2 linked regions of the Homo sapiens genome follow. The protein of the gene in region 2 interacts with the protein of the main gene of each other region in a biochemical or structural test. Each region holds a gene or a part of one and is shown on either strand. Other genes may lie near its edges.

What was found. Proteins that work in one complex are often made in the same cells at the same time.
Region 1: the proteins of PDCD6 (region 2) and FNDC3A interact in far-western blotting, tested with the Homo sapiens proteins (one study listed by BioGRID).

What each region holds. Positions count from the first base shown.
Region 1 is NC_000013.11:49,132,912-49,139,911, reverse strand, and holds part of FNDC3A (fibronectin type-III domain-containing protein 3A), read right to left. Parts: intron 3,581-7,000; coding exon 3,311-3,580; intron 1,166-3,310; coding exon 1,107-1,165; intron 1-1,106. UniProt on the Homo sapiens protein: Mediates spermatid-Sertoli adhesion during spermatogenesis.
Region 2 is NC_000005.10:309,497-315,559, reverse strand, and holds the end of PDCD6 (programmed cell death protein 6), read right to left. Parts: intron 4,268-6,063; coding exon 4,158-4,267; intron 1,144-4,157; coding exon 1,045-1,143; 3' UTR 586-1,044; downstream 1-585. UniProt on the Homo sapiens protein: Calcium sensor that plays a key role in processes such as endoplasmic reticulum (ER)-Golgi vesicular transport, endosomal biogenesis or membrane repair.

The DNA of each region.
Region 1 (7,000 bases), on a different chromosome or scaffold from region 2:
TACTGCCTAAATTTCAGTCATAGCTCTACTACTACTAATTGAAACTCACTGTTGCTTCAGTTTCCTCATTTGTAAAGCAGGGAAAATAGTACATATATGGTTGTCACAGGTATTAAATAATGCACATGTGCATTCCAAGCACTCTGAACAGAGACTGATGCTAATCAATTTGTGTTAACCATTACTATGAAATAATTGTGTAAATTTACATTTATTTACACATATATGCTCTATTCTCAAGAGAAAACAGATTAGAATAAAGAAAGCTAGAGCAACCAAATCTATTATTTGGGAGTTGTCAGAAAAAGTAGGACCATATTAGTCTATTAGATGAGGAACTGGCTTACTCAAACATCCTAAAACATGGCAAGATAAGCTTAAAAAGCCTTTATGGAGATGGTACTAAGAATAATAACTTTTCTAATCTGTTTTCTCAGAAAAACAAAGTATTTTTGGGGCAACTTAGTATAAAACATTTTACCATGGATGTTTCTGAGAGTTGGGAAAGAGTAGTTTGTTTTATGAACCAAAAAATATTCTTATCAATCTTAAATTGCCTTATTCTGGCTGAAAAAGTCCTATGGCCTACTTCTTCCACCACATCTTTCTCCCCTTCACTATACTCCAGTGATAATGGTTCTTTCCCTCTGTCCAACTCCCCATGCTTACTTACACCTGTTCTCCCTCTCCCATTCCTTCCACTTTTGCACTTTTTCTCACTTGTCAGAGAAAGCTTCCCTGATTGCTCTATTTAACCTAACAACCTCTCCTATTAATCTCATCATATCATTCCTATTTCTATAATAGCAATCTTTACTATCACACAGAATTCTGTTTGTGCATTTGTTTTTTATTTATTGGCATATAGTAAGGGATCAATAAATATTTGATGAATGAATGACAAAACTATGTAGCTCTTCAAAGAATCAGGTAATGACATAGAAAGATAGCTAAAGCATACCATAGTGAGTGAAAAAGCTTGTCACAGAATACAGTATGATCCTATTTTCATAAAAAGTTAAAAGAAAAAAACTACATTTTGATGGATGAACATCTTATGCTAATATATTAAATATAAACATCAATAAAATACATAAGATACTTACCACTGGTTTGACAATGTTGGAAAGAAGTGCTTCAAATGCTTTAGTTTCTTCATCTTTTTCTTAAAAAAATAAAACATTTGAATATTTAAAAAAAAGAACTTAGATACAATCCCTTCTTCTCCCTAAATATGTATTCTGAAACTAGGTTGGTATTTGAGACTTTTATTTTCTAGTTTTTATTCCTTTGTTCATACTCAGCAGTTTGTGGCCCTTCAGCATTTATCTACTTTAGTTTTTATTTCTATCTTAACTGTGACTACTAATTATAACACCACTATATACAGATATATCTATATATATTTAGACATAGCTATATCTATCTGAACCAAATTTTTCTTATATCAAGTATATTTTTATTCATGGTTGTAAGAATATTCTCTCTGGAAAGTTCTCATTTGTCAATCTCATACCTCTTAATAAAGTTAACTATTTTTTCATGACATGCCTTAGTTATGGTTTCCCAAATTAGAAATATAATTGGCTTGACTGTAACTTATAGCCACCACTGATAGGCAAAAAACTTTAACTTAATTTCTTCTGAAACATCAGTGCTGAAAACGATGATCAGGTCTCAAATAAATGGGAGAACATTTATGTAAATGTTGTTAATATATAAGTCATGAACAGTTAAGACATTATTTGAAATTTGTTAGTGAGGCATGGAAATTTTAAGGAAAAGGAAGGTAGGAAGAGTTCACATGGCTTACATTTTGATATTTCCCTCAAAGTTGGAAGCATTTTAGTTCCTAGTCATATATTAATTACCTACACTATTTGATAGTAAATATCAATTTAGATAAGCATATTCAAGGACTGATAGAGTTGTGGTTATTGGTGCTTGTGAAATGACATGTTGGTATGGTTCATAGTCATTTCTGATGAAACCTTTAGAACCTGACATGGTCTACCATGCATATCTATGTATTTCTACATACGCATATCTACGTCAAACAGATAATAGTCAGTATTAAGGAAACCTAAAAGAACATACATATAGAAACTACATTAATCAAAGTAAGCAGTAGTTACAAGCTTAACATTACAATCAAAAGTACTGGGTACTAACTCCACAACTGTAGGCATATGAAAGACAGGCTGTTAACCCAGCTATATTTTACCTTATAGAGATTGATTCAAGTATATACAAATAATAGTGCTCAAAGTCCATATAGTAGGCTCATGCCTGTAATCTTAGCACACTGGAAGGTCAAGGTGGGTGGACTGCTTGAGCCTAGGAGTTGGAGACCAGCCTGGCCAAGATGGTGAAACCCTGTCTCTACTAAAAATACAAAAAGTAGTTGGGCGTGGTGGCATGCGCCTTTAGTCCCAGCTACTCAGGAGGCTGAGGCACGAGAATCGCTTCAACACAGGAGGCGGAGGTTGCAGTGAGCTGACATTGCGCCACTGCATTCCAGCCTGGGTGACAGAGCGAGACTTGGTCTCAAAAACAAACAAACAAACAAAAACCAATAAAACAAAGTTCATAGAGTAGAAGTCAGAGGTTAGGGGAAGGATCCAAGAGTAACAAGGAGAGTTTAGGAGAAAAGAACTTTTGAAGAAAGAAATGAAAAATACTCTATCCTAATTACAGAGTATATAGAGAGATTAGTAAATGATATAACTATTTGCTATCAAGGTTTTACTCAAAAAGAAGGTGGGAGAAATAAAAAGTTTTGATAGGTTGGGGACAGTGGCTCAGGCCTATAATTGCAGCACTTTGAGAGGCCAAGATGGGAGGACTGCTTGAGCCCAGGAGATCGAGACCAGCATGGGCAAAACAGCGAGACCCTGTCTCTACTAAAAATTAAAAAATTAGCTGGGTGTGGTGGTGTATGCCTGTAGTTTCCAGCTGCAGTTATCTATGATCGTGCCACTCCAGCCTGGGTGACAAAGCAAGACCCTGTCTCAAAAAAAAAAAGTTTTGATTAAAAACCAGCAGCATAGCCTTATCAAACGCCCAGAATCAGAAGAAAGGAATCTGGATTAATGTTCTCTGAGTTTTCCTATCAAATAGAAATTTCAGTCAGTAAAATTTACGATATAGATGAAATTACTAATTGAGGCTTTCCAAACTGTCGAAAGCAGCAGCCTGTAACAGTCTATTTGGACCATGACAAAATGACTGAAAGGTTAGAATATACTTTTAGTAGGTTAAATCACGAGAATAGCATCAATGAGAACAGTTCAGTACTTCAAACAGTTACCTTCAATTTCTGTATCAACTTGTGTACCACCTTTCCCCTTCCCAGACTTGATTTTTGCTGATCCTGTGTTTATACCACCAGCAATTTGTCCTTTTATAAGTCCATTATGTTCATTAATGGGAGAAGGGCATTTCTGGGGTGATGATGGTGGACTGCTCATTTTATCTTTCTGTGTTCCTTGGCGATCCTTCAATTTTTTCTGCAAACGTTCATATGTTTTACTAGATCGTTCATCTCTAAAGTTGGACCTTCCATGTGTAGAGTGAGCATCTAGGAGGCAATAAAAACAAAATGTTAAGAAGATCACTTTCTCCAAATAAGTTTATGCCATGAAAAAAGAACAGAAAATAAATCTATCATATAAAACTTTTATAAAATATTTAAAAGAATTTTGCATAACAAAGCAACCTTTGTGTCTCCATAAACTATCAGAACCAAGCTTTGTGATTTATTCTAATTATATATATCTCTCTCTCAAGTAAATTTACAGAGAGATTTATTTCCTTCTGTTCTCAACTAATTATTAATCTCCATAGAAACAGCTTGGTGGTAACTTATGATTATTGTAGGTGAGGAATGAGACTGGAGCTGAGCAGTCCACAGTTCTTTTTCTTTTACTCTTTAGTAACTATTACTTTTCACATCTTTTTGAACCTTAAACACATAAAATAGGTAAAAAGAAAACCACTGCCTGCCTAAATTCCCTTATAACTCAAAAAAGCAATCATCACTGAAAAAAAGTTAGCCAAAAGAAATGATTTAGACTGTTTAACAATAACAATCTACATATAATGTATCTTCAGATACTATAAACTCAAGGTTGTGATTTAGAAGAATCCACTCATTCTAATAAAAGTCACATAGGAACATAATTAAGTCATTATGCTCAATAAATATTAATTCAATTGTCCCCAGAGTTTTTTAAATTTAAAATTTGTGATGAGAAAAATATTTTTTAAAAGCCTCAGTAAAAAGTTTTAATTTAGCAGTGCCTTAAGAAAATTAGTACAGTATTTTTGAAATGAGTATTATAAGGATATGTACAATAACATTAGAATGAACGTGGACCTCTACCTCACACCATATACAAAAATTAATTCAAATGAATCAATGACCCAAATGTAAGAGATTAAACTATAGAACTCTTAGAAGAAAACACGTCTCTATGACCTTGGATTTGGCAATAGTTTCTTAGACGAGACACCAAAAACACAAGCAATCAAAGAAAAAATTAGATTTCATCAGAATTAAAAACTTTTCTGCACTAAAGGATACCACAAGGAAAGTGAAAAAACAACAAGGGAGGAAATCATATATCTGATAAGGAACTTGTATCCAGAATATATATACTCTTACCTTTCAACAATAAAAAGACAAATATCCCACCCATTTAAAAAATGGGTGAAGAATTCAAATAGACATTTCTCCAAAGAAAATATATGAATGGGGCTGGGCGCAGTGGCTCACGCCTGTAATCCCAGCACTTTGGGAGGGTGAGGCAGGTGGATCACAAGGTCAGGAGTTCAAGACCGGCCTGGCCAAGATGGTGAAATCCCATCTCTACTAAAAATACAAAAAATTAGCCGGGCGTGGTGGCGCGCACCTGTAATCCCAGCTATTCGCGAGGCTGAGGCAGGAGAATCATTTGAACCTGGGAGGCAGAGGGCAGAGGTTGCAGTGAGCCGAGATCATGCCACTGCACTCCAGCCTGGGCGACAGAGCGAGACTCTGTCTCAAAAAAAAAAAAAAAAAAAAAAAAAGAGTGAAACTCCATCTCAAAAAAAAAAAAAAAAAAAAAAAGGAAAAGAAAATATACAAATGGCCAATAAGCACATGAAAAGATGATCAACATTAGTAGCATTAGGGAAAAGCAAATCAAAACCATAATGAGAGAGAAATTTATTCAGGATGCCTACAATCAAAAGACAGACGATATCAAGTTTTGGCAAAGAAATTGGAACCCTCATACATTGCTGGTAGGAATATAAAATGGTGTAGTCACTGTGGAAAAGTAATATAGAATTAACATATGACCCAGCAATTCCACTCTGAGGCACATACCCGGAAGAAATGAAAATATGTCAACACAAAAACTTTTACACAAATGGTCACAGCAGTATTGTTCATAGACAAAAAGTGAAAACAACCCAAAGGTCCATCAGCTAATGAGTGATAAAATGTAATCAACAGAATGCAATATTATTGCAGCCATAAAAAGGAACGAAGTACTATTATATGTGAGAACATGAACTTTGAAAACATGACATTAAGTGAAAAAAAACTAGACACAAAAGTCTACATACTGTATGAACATTTTAATGAAATTTTTATATGAAATACTTATATGTATATTTATATGAAGTCTAGAATAGGCAAACCCATACAGACAGAAAGTAGATCATGGGATGTGAAGGAACAGAGAGTTGGGACTGACTGTTAATATGCACAGTTTCTTTTTTGGGATGATAGAAATGTTCTGGAATTAGACAGTGGTACTTAATACAGTACATACTGAATATAGAAAACATTGAGTTGCATATGTTGCACAATAAAGTAAATATATTAAAAACCACTGAAGTGTAAAATGATGAACTGTTACCTAAATTATATCTCGACAAAAAGTTAAGAAAAATAGCAACTGCAATCAATTAGATCAATTAGTACATACTTTAAAATGCTTTATCTATTATTCAAAATAATAAAGCTACCATGGAAGAGAAAAAAGAATATATTATAGTAGAAAGAGAAGGAACTTAATCATTGAATAGATCTGAGAGGGTTAAAATTCTGAGCAATTAACTAGCAGTGTGGCCTTGCAGAAATTACTTAACATTTCTGAGCCTCGGTTTCCTCATTTGAATTTTGCAGAATTTTATTGAAAATTAAGTGAGATAATACATGTGTGAGCATAGTGCCTAGCAAGGTTCAGGCTCACTAATGGTACTGCTAACAGTGAAATGCTGGATCAGATTCCACTTTGAGAATCCATATGGATTGTGCATGGAAAGGACATCACGGAGGTATAGCCATTGGTTAGAAAACCAGTACTGTCAATAATTAGCATTTAGTGGTAGAATCTCTGGCTTATAACCTCAAGTACAACATGACTCCTCCCTTTTACCACTGGGTAGCTAATTTGTGGATTTGTGCCCTTCACTTTCCTTCATATCAATGTAGATCACATCCATGTATTCTAATGCATATCCCTACAGAATAACAAGGGGTTTTAACAATGCAAAATAGTAATAATTGTAATACTAGCTTTTTCTTATAGTTTTCTCAGATTATAAGAAAAAATTAATATTTTTAAAACTAAGTCATAATTAGCAGTAAACAAAAATAGGATGAGACTAATCTGCAGTATAAACTTTTGGTACTCAAAAGTATGTTCCTTGGAGCACAGCATGAACATCTCCTAGGGGCTTGTTAGAAATGCAGAATCTCAAGCACTACCCAGAGCTACTGAACCAATTTGCATTACTTGGGCAATAGAAATAAGTTTGACAAATACATATGATGTGTACAATATATCCACTATTTACAGGCTGTGTTGTGTAATTTCAATTTTGTATTTGAAGTTATTTCTTCTGCAAATGTACTGAGCATAAGTGACAGGCAATGCTAAGTGCAGGGAAACAATAGTGATTAAAATAGATTCAGTTCTTAGGGAGTTGATAGTCAAATAAGGGA
Region 2 (6,063 bases):
AGAGGTTTGAACAGATCCCAAGAGACCAAAACGAACAGAGAAAAGTCGTGCACAACTGGGTGGAAGGAGCAGGCTTTCTGAGACCAGAGGCTGCAGCCCCAAAACCAGACGCATCACTGTGGAAGGGAAGCGTCTGGAGAATGAGGCTGGGCCTCGGGAGTGTCAACCCAGGAGGGCCGGCGCTGCACAGTGAGGCAGGGAGGCGGACCGGGCAGCGCTGGCAGTGGACCGAGGTGAGCAGGATGCGCTGGGTGGACAAACGCTGCAGGCCACGTGCAGAGACTGCAGGGCACAGCATGGCTAAATCATTAATGATGGAAATGCACAACCTGCTATACCAAATTGGATTTCTTCATCCAAAAGGAGCAGTCTTATGAAATTTAACCTCCTGAACAGAGGGTGAGACAGTCCCTCTGGATTTTCACAAGCAGAGCTGTGCACGCTGGGCTGGACAATGTTCCAGAAGGTGCCCGGTACCCTGGGAGGTCCCAGGCAAGCCAGAACATCTGACACTGACTGTCTGGAGGACCAGGGCACGGGGCCTGGTTCTTGGACCTATTTGATTTGAAAAGCTGAAGGCAGACCACACGTCTAACATTCCCTTTATTGCTTACGTCACATATTCCAATGAATACAATAAACTCCTTTTTAAAAAAGTAAGGCACATGAAAAGCCTTTTGTGTAAGTTCCATGTTATTTTAAAATTCCTATTGGCTAATAAAAGCATTTGCACTATAGAACCAGAGACATCTAGAAAAGCACATGATAGATTTTTTTGCAAGCAGAATGCCTGAAACATTACATTTACCTCATGGCACAATGAGACAGTCACCAAATCCAATGTCTGCATTAGAACGATACAGCTACTATTACAGTTGCAAAACCATTAATCAGCTTATCCACATATGTACAGCTGGGTCCCCACGTGACAAAATCTAAAGGAAGAACAGCATCTAACTGCACCTGTGCTCCATTCCCTCACAGATAGGAACTGTGACATTTTGGCTCTTTCCATGTTGTGCTGCTCTTCACGAGAGGCCAGGGTCATACGATACTGAAGACCATGGACAGGTACTGTTCGTACGACACCTGAATCCAGCCGTCCTGATCCGTGTCGTAACGTCTGAATATATCCGTCAACCTCTGGGGAGAAAACAGGCATTTAAATCTCGATAGTAAATGGAAGGAGCAAGGTGCACTGGGACAAAGGCATGTAGGGACCCAATTTCAGAAGCACACACGTCTTCTGGGCTCCCTGATGGAGCCCAGCACAGGGAGGCGCAGGTGGGGCTGGAGCTGTTCACACGGACGGTGGGAGTGCGAAGAACGAAGAACACAGGGCTGCGGGGCTGGCTCCGGACATCCAGCCCTGGCTGAGCCCCTGGCTGAGCCCCTGACCCCAGGCTCTGGTCTCCTGAGTCTCCTGGGGGCCTGGGCCCTTCCTTCTCCCCCTGAAGACCGTCCCGTGGAAGCCCTCCACCCTCCAGTGGCTCGCCTCTGCTGTGGGGGCCACCTGGGGCATGTGCAGCGCAGGGGATGCCCAGCCAGATGGGCTTGTGACATCACGAGGGCTTCAGGTTCCTCCAGCCCAGCCCACCCCTCCCTCTCACAGCCGAGGGTCCAGGCCAGGTCAGCGGCAGAGACAGGGTGACCACCTACACTCCTGAAACAGGGATGGTTAAGTAAGTGACACTTCAACCGTAAAATACCCTGAAGATTCAGGCCAGCATGGTGACTCTCGCCTGTGATCCCAGCACTTTGGGGGTCCGAGGCGTGAGGATCGCTTGAGCCTGAGGGTCGAGGCTGCAGTGAGCCGTGTTCGCACCACCACACTCTGGCCTGGGTGATGGAGCAAGGGTCTGTCTCAAGAAAGAAGAAGAAAATGTGGCAGGGAAGACACAGCGTCCTCGCACATCAAGACCTGCAGGAACATGGACAGGGTGTGGTGACTCTCGCCTGGGATCCCAGCTACTCAGGAGGCCAAGGCAGAAGGATCGCTTGAGCCTCAGGGTCAAGGCTGCAGTGAGCTGTTTACACCACCACATTCCAGCTGGGGTGACAAGAGTGAGACTCCATCTCAAAGAAAAAAAAACAACCCTGCAGGAATGCCACAGCCACCACCGGGCTCCTTGACTTGGCAGAGGCTACGGCCTCACCCAACTCCAAAAGCACCGCAATGGATAATGCTGGCTTAAAGAGTAATGGGTAATTTTTCTTTCTATTTTGAATACTTTGTGTTTTTCTAGGGTTTCTAGAAGTGTTCATGTTATTTGTTAGAAAATAATTTTCAAAAAGCCTTTATCCTTTCAGAAAAAGCAGATAAATAAAAACGTTTTTGAGGGAATTTTAACTTGAGGTCTGCAGCTTTCTTTTCTTTCCCATTCCCCATCTGTCTAGCGTTTAGGGTCACTCTCCAAGGGTGGGGACAGCCTGGGAATTGGCTGTCAGGCCCTCCCCACGTGGTCTGGAGCAGGGCCTTGAGGAGGCATCTCCCAGGAGGAGCTACGCTGGCTGCAGATGTGCCTTGGAAGGCGCTGGAGAGGTCGCTGTGAGGCCGCCTGTGTTACTCCAGCTACCGAAAGCTCACACAAGATCAACGTTAACTTATAGAACATAACCTCAAATGAAGATCTGAGCCCTACGGCAATTCAGACACAGAACCTCAAATGAAGATCTGAGCCCTACGGCAATTCAGACACAGAACGAGATTTTACACGGCATCTTTTCCCTTTTTCTTTTCTTTCTTTTTTAAGACAGGGTCTGGCTCTGTCACCCAGGCTGGAGTGCAGTGGTGTGATCTCGGCTCACTGAAACCTCCACCTCCCGGGTTCAAGTGATTCTCCTGCCTCAGCCTCCTGAGTAGCTGGGACTACAGGCATGCGACACCAGGCCCAGCCTACACTTTTTTGAAAGTGTTCAGAGAACATTGTAAAAATGTCATCCAACCTGGCAGGAACCCCGAGAGGCAGGGGCAGGAAAGGGTCCCCAACCGTAGAGTTTTGAAGCTTCCATGTTCACAGACCTGGTTCTCCAACAAATCCCTGAAGAACAGGGACTGATGCATCCATGCCAAATCAGAGGAAACTCACTTTTACAGATCTAGCATCTTAATTATTATACAGAATAAACAATTTGGGAACGTTTTCCAAATTTCCACATTATTTCTAAAAACCCCATGCTGTTCCTATCTCTCACTGAATTCCAAGGCCAACAAGACAGGACCTTGAGGAACCTGGGTAGAGACCTGGATCACCACCTGCAAACAGCAGCAGAGGTCTGTGTGGAGCTCCCAGGCGGGTCCCCTGAGCCCTGCTCTCCATCTCCCGTGGGTCTCAAAGAGAGCCCAGCAGGAGAGACACCACCAAGGAGCTTGCCTTGCAGGTCAGGGTGCATTACCAGCTCCTGCAGACACTGGAGTGCACGGGAAGAGCTCGGAGACCCCACTGAGGGCGGCCTGAGCGACCACAGGCTCCACAGCTGACCTCACACACAGACGGCAGGACACAGTGATGACCACAACAGAAAACGTGCCCATTTTCTCAGAATAAAAGTTTTTGTAAAAATACACCATAGTTGGCCAGGCATGGTGGCTCATGTCTGTAATCCTAGCACTTTGGGAGGCTAAGGTGGGCGGATTACTTGAGGTCAGGAGTTTGAGATCAGCCTGGCCAACATGGCAAAATCCCGTCTCTACTAAAAATACAAAAATTAGCTGGGTGTCACCTGTAATCCCAGCTACTGGGGAGGCTGAGGCAGGAGAATTGCTTAAACCCGGGACGCAGAGGTGGGAGTGAGCCGGGATCGTGCCACTGCACTCCCGTCTGGGTGACAGAGCGAGACTCGGTCTCAAAACAAAACAAAACAAAACAAAAAACAAAAAAAACCACAACACCAGAACATACATGTAAATAACCCACCGGATACTGAAAAACCACGTCTTGCAGATGGGCTGCTCTGTGCCATTTCCAAGGGGAGGAAAACATGTTTGTCCACACTTCACTAACCGGCTACTTCTCCAAAGATGAGACTCACTTTTATAAGCTCCAAAAACTAATTCTACACATGCCCAGCTCCTTAGATTGAAGGTCAGGTGCATCACGCTGGCAAGCAAGCCCCTCCCACCACCACCACAAACCCACGTGAAGCCATTCCGTCACCTGCAGGACGATGCAGCCCTGGATGAAGTCGTCGAAGGCAATCTGCCCCCGTCCCTGCCTGTCAAACTTTCGAATGAGGATGTCGTGGAACTGGTCAGAGAGCCGGTAGCCTTCAAGAGGGAAAGTCAGAGTCAGAGAAGGCTGGGAGAGACGGGAGGTATGTGCCAACACTCACCCCTCCTGCCCAAGGCCCACAGCCTCTAACACACACAATGCAAGGCTGTGTGGGAACGGAAGTGCAAATTCCCTCAAAGGCACTCAGAACTGAGACACTTCCCGAATATATCATTCTGTAATGAGCTGACATCCCCAGTGCATGGAGTGACCCCTTGAGACCATGACCCCGGAAGGAGGAGTGAGTGGGACGCTGCCATTAGTCACTCCTGTGAATTAACTACTCACCTCCGGGAAGCACTCACCAAACACCACCCCACAGGGCGGCCACACTCAGTTTCCTGAACCCAGTGGAGTTACTTTCAAAGTCCTTATTGATTTTATTATGTTTATTAGCCTAGATAAGAAAATTCTGAATGATTCGCTGCCCTGGGTTGCCCATCACCAGATAATGCTTTGAAAACTAAAATTTCACAGAAGGCTTCCAGTTATACAAAGTGACAATGTCAGGAAATGGGAGTGGCTGGGGGATGTGCCCCCACCTGCCAGGAGGGACTGAAGGGCACGCAGTGGCAGGGTGACCTCGGAAAGGTCCAAGTCACTGCAGGGCCACCAAGGGCTGGGATTCCGTTTCCAGTTCACCAAGGCTGTCCTGAAAAAGGCCTCCCACAGGGAGAGGGCTCTGAAGACATGTGGATGCAGCAGGTGTGTTCGGGCACCCCGGAGGGCATGCCCCGCCTGCCGCCTTCCCTTCCCTCCCTCGAAATCCCACTGCCTTCGTGACTGTGGCATATCCTTACTGACTCAGGAGGCAAGATCCAGGTGCTGATATATTTCTACTGGTTTTCAGTCCTGCTGGAATCTCTGCAGGGACGTGTGCACCTACTCTCTGAATCTCACAGTTAATGACCTGCACAAACAGCCATTTTACGGATCAAGAGTCAAGCACACAAACATGAACACAGTGCCTTCCAGAGTGGTCAGGGCATTCTGTCATTTAAGTTCAGGGGTCCCTAAATGTGCAACAGCGGAGTTGCCTCGGACCCTCCTTCCTTGCAAGCTGAAAAGACAGGACCTCCCATTACATTCAGAAAGAGATGGCAGAGTTGTCAACAGCTGCCACTTTTTCTGGTCCCTACTACTCCCACCTCCTCACTCCCTGCACCAGGGCTGAGCCCAGCCTGCTGAGAACAGAGCCTGGGACAGGCCCACAGGGACATTGCCTGTCTGGGAGTGCATGGGGGACAGAGGCCATCACTGGTGTGCACGGGGACGGCGGCCATCACTGGGGTGCACGGGCACGGCGGCCATCACTGGTGTGCACGGGGACGGCGGCCATCACTGGGGTGCACGGGGACGGCGGCCATCACTGGGGTGCACGGGGACGGCGGCCATCACTGGGGTGCACGGGGACGGCGGCCATCACTGGGGTGCACGGGGACGGCGGCCATCACTGGGGTGCACGGGGACGGCGGCCATCACTGGGGTGCACGGGGACGGCGGCCATCACTGGGGTGCACGGGGACGGCGGCCATCACTGGGGTGCACGGGGACGGCGGCCATCACTGGGGTGCACGGGGACGGCGGCCCTCACTGGGGTGCACGGGGACGGCGGCCCTCACTGGTGTGCACGGGGACGGCGGCCCTCACTGGTGTGCACGGGGACGGCGGCCATCACTGGGGTGCACGGGGACGGCGGCCATCACTGGGGTGCACGGGGACAGAGGTCATTACTGGTCTCCTGCCAAGGCTGGGGAAGGACAGAGGAGATGCTGACAGAGGCAGAGGAACT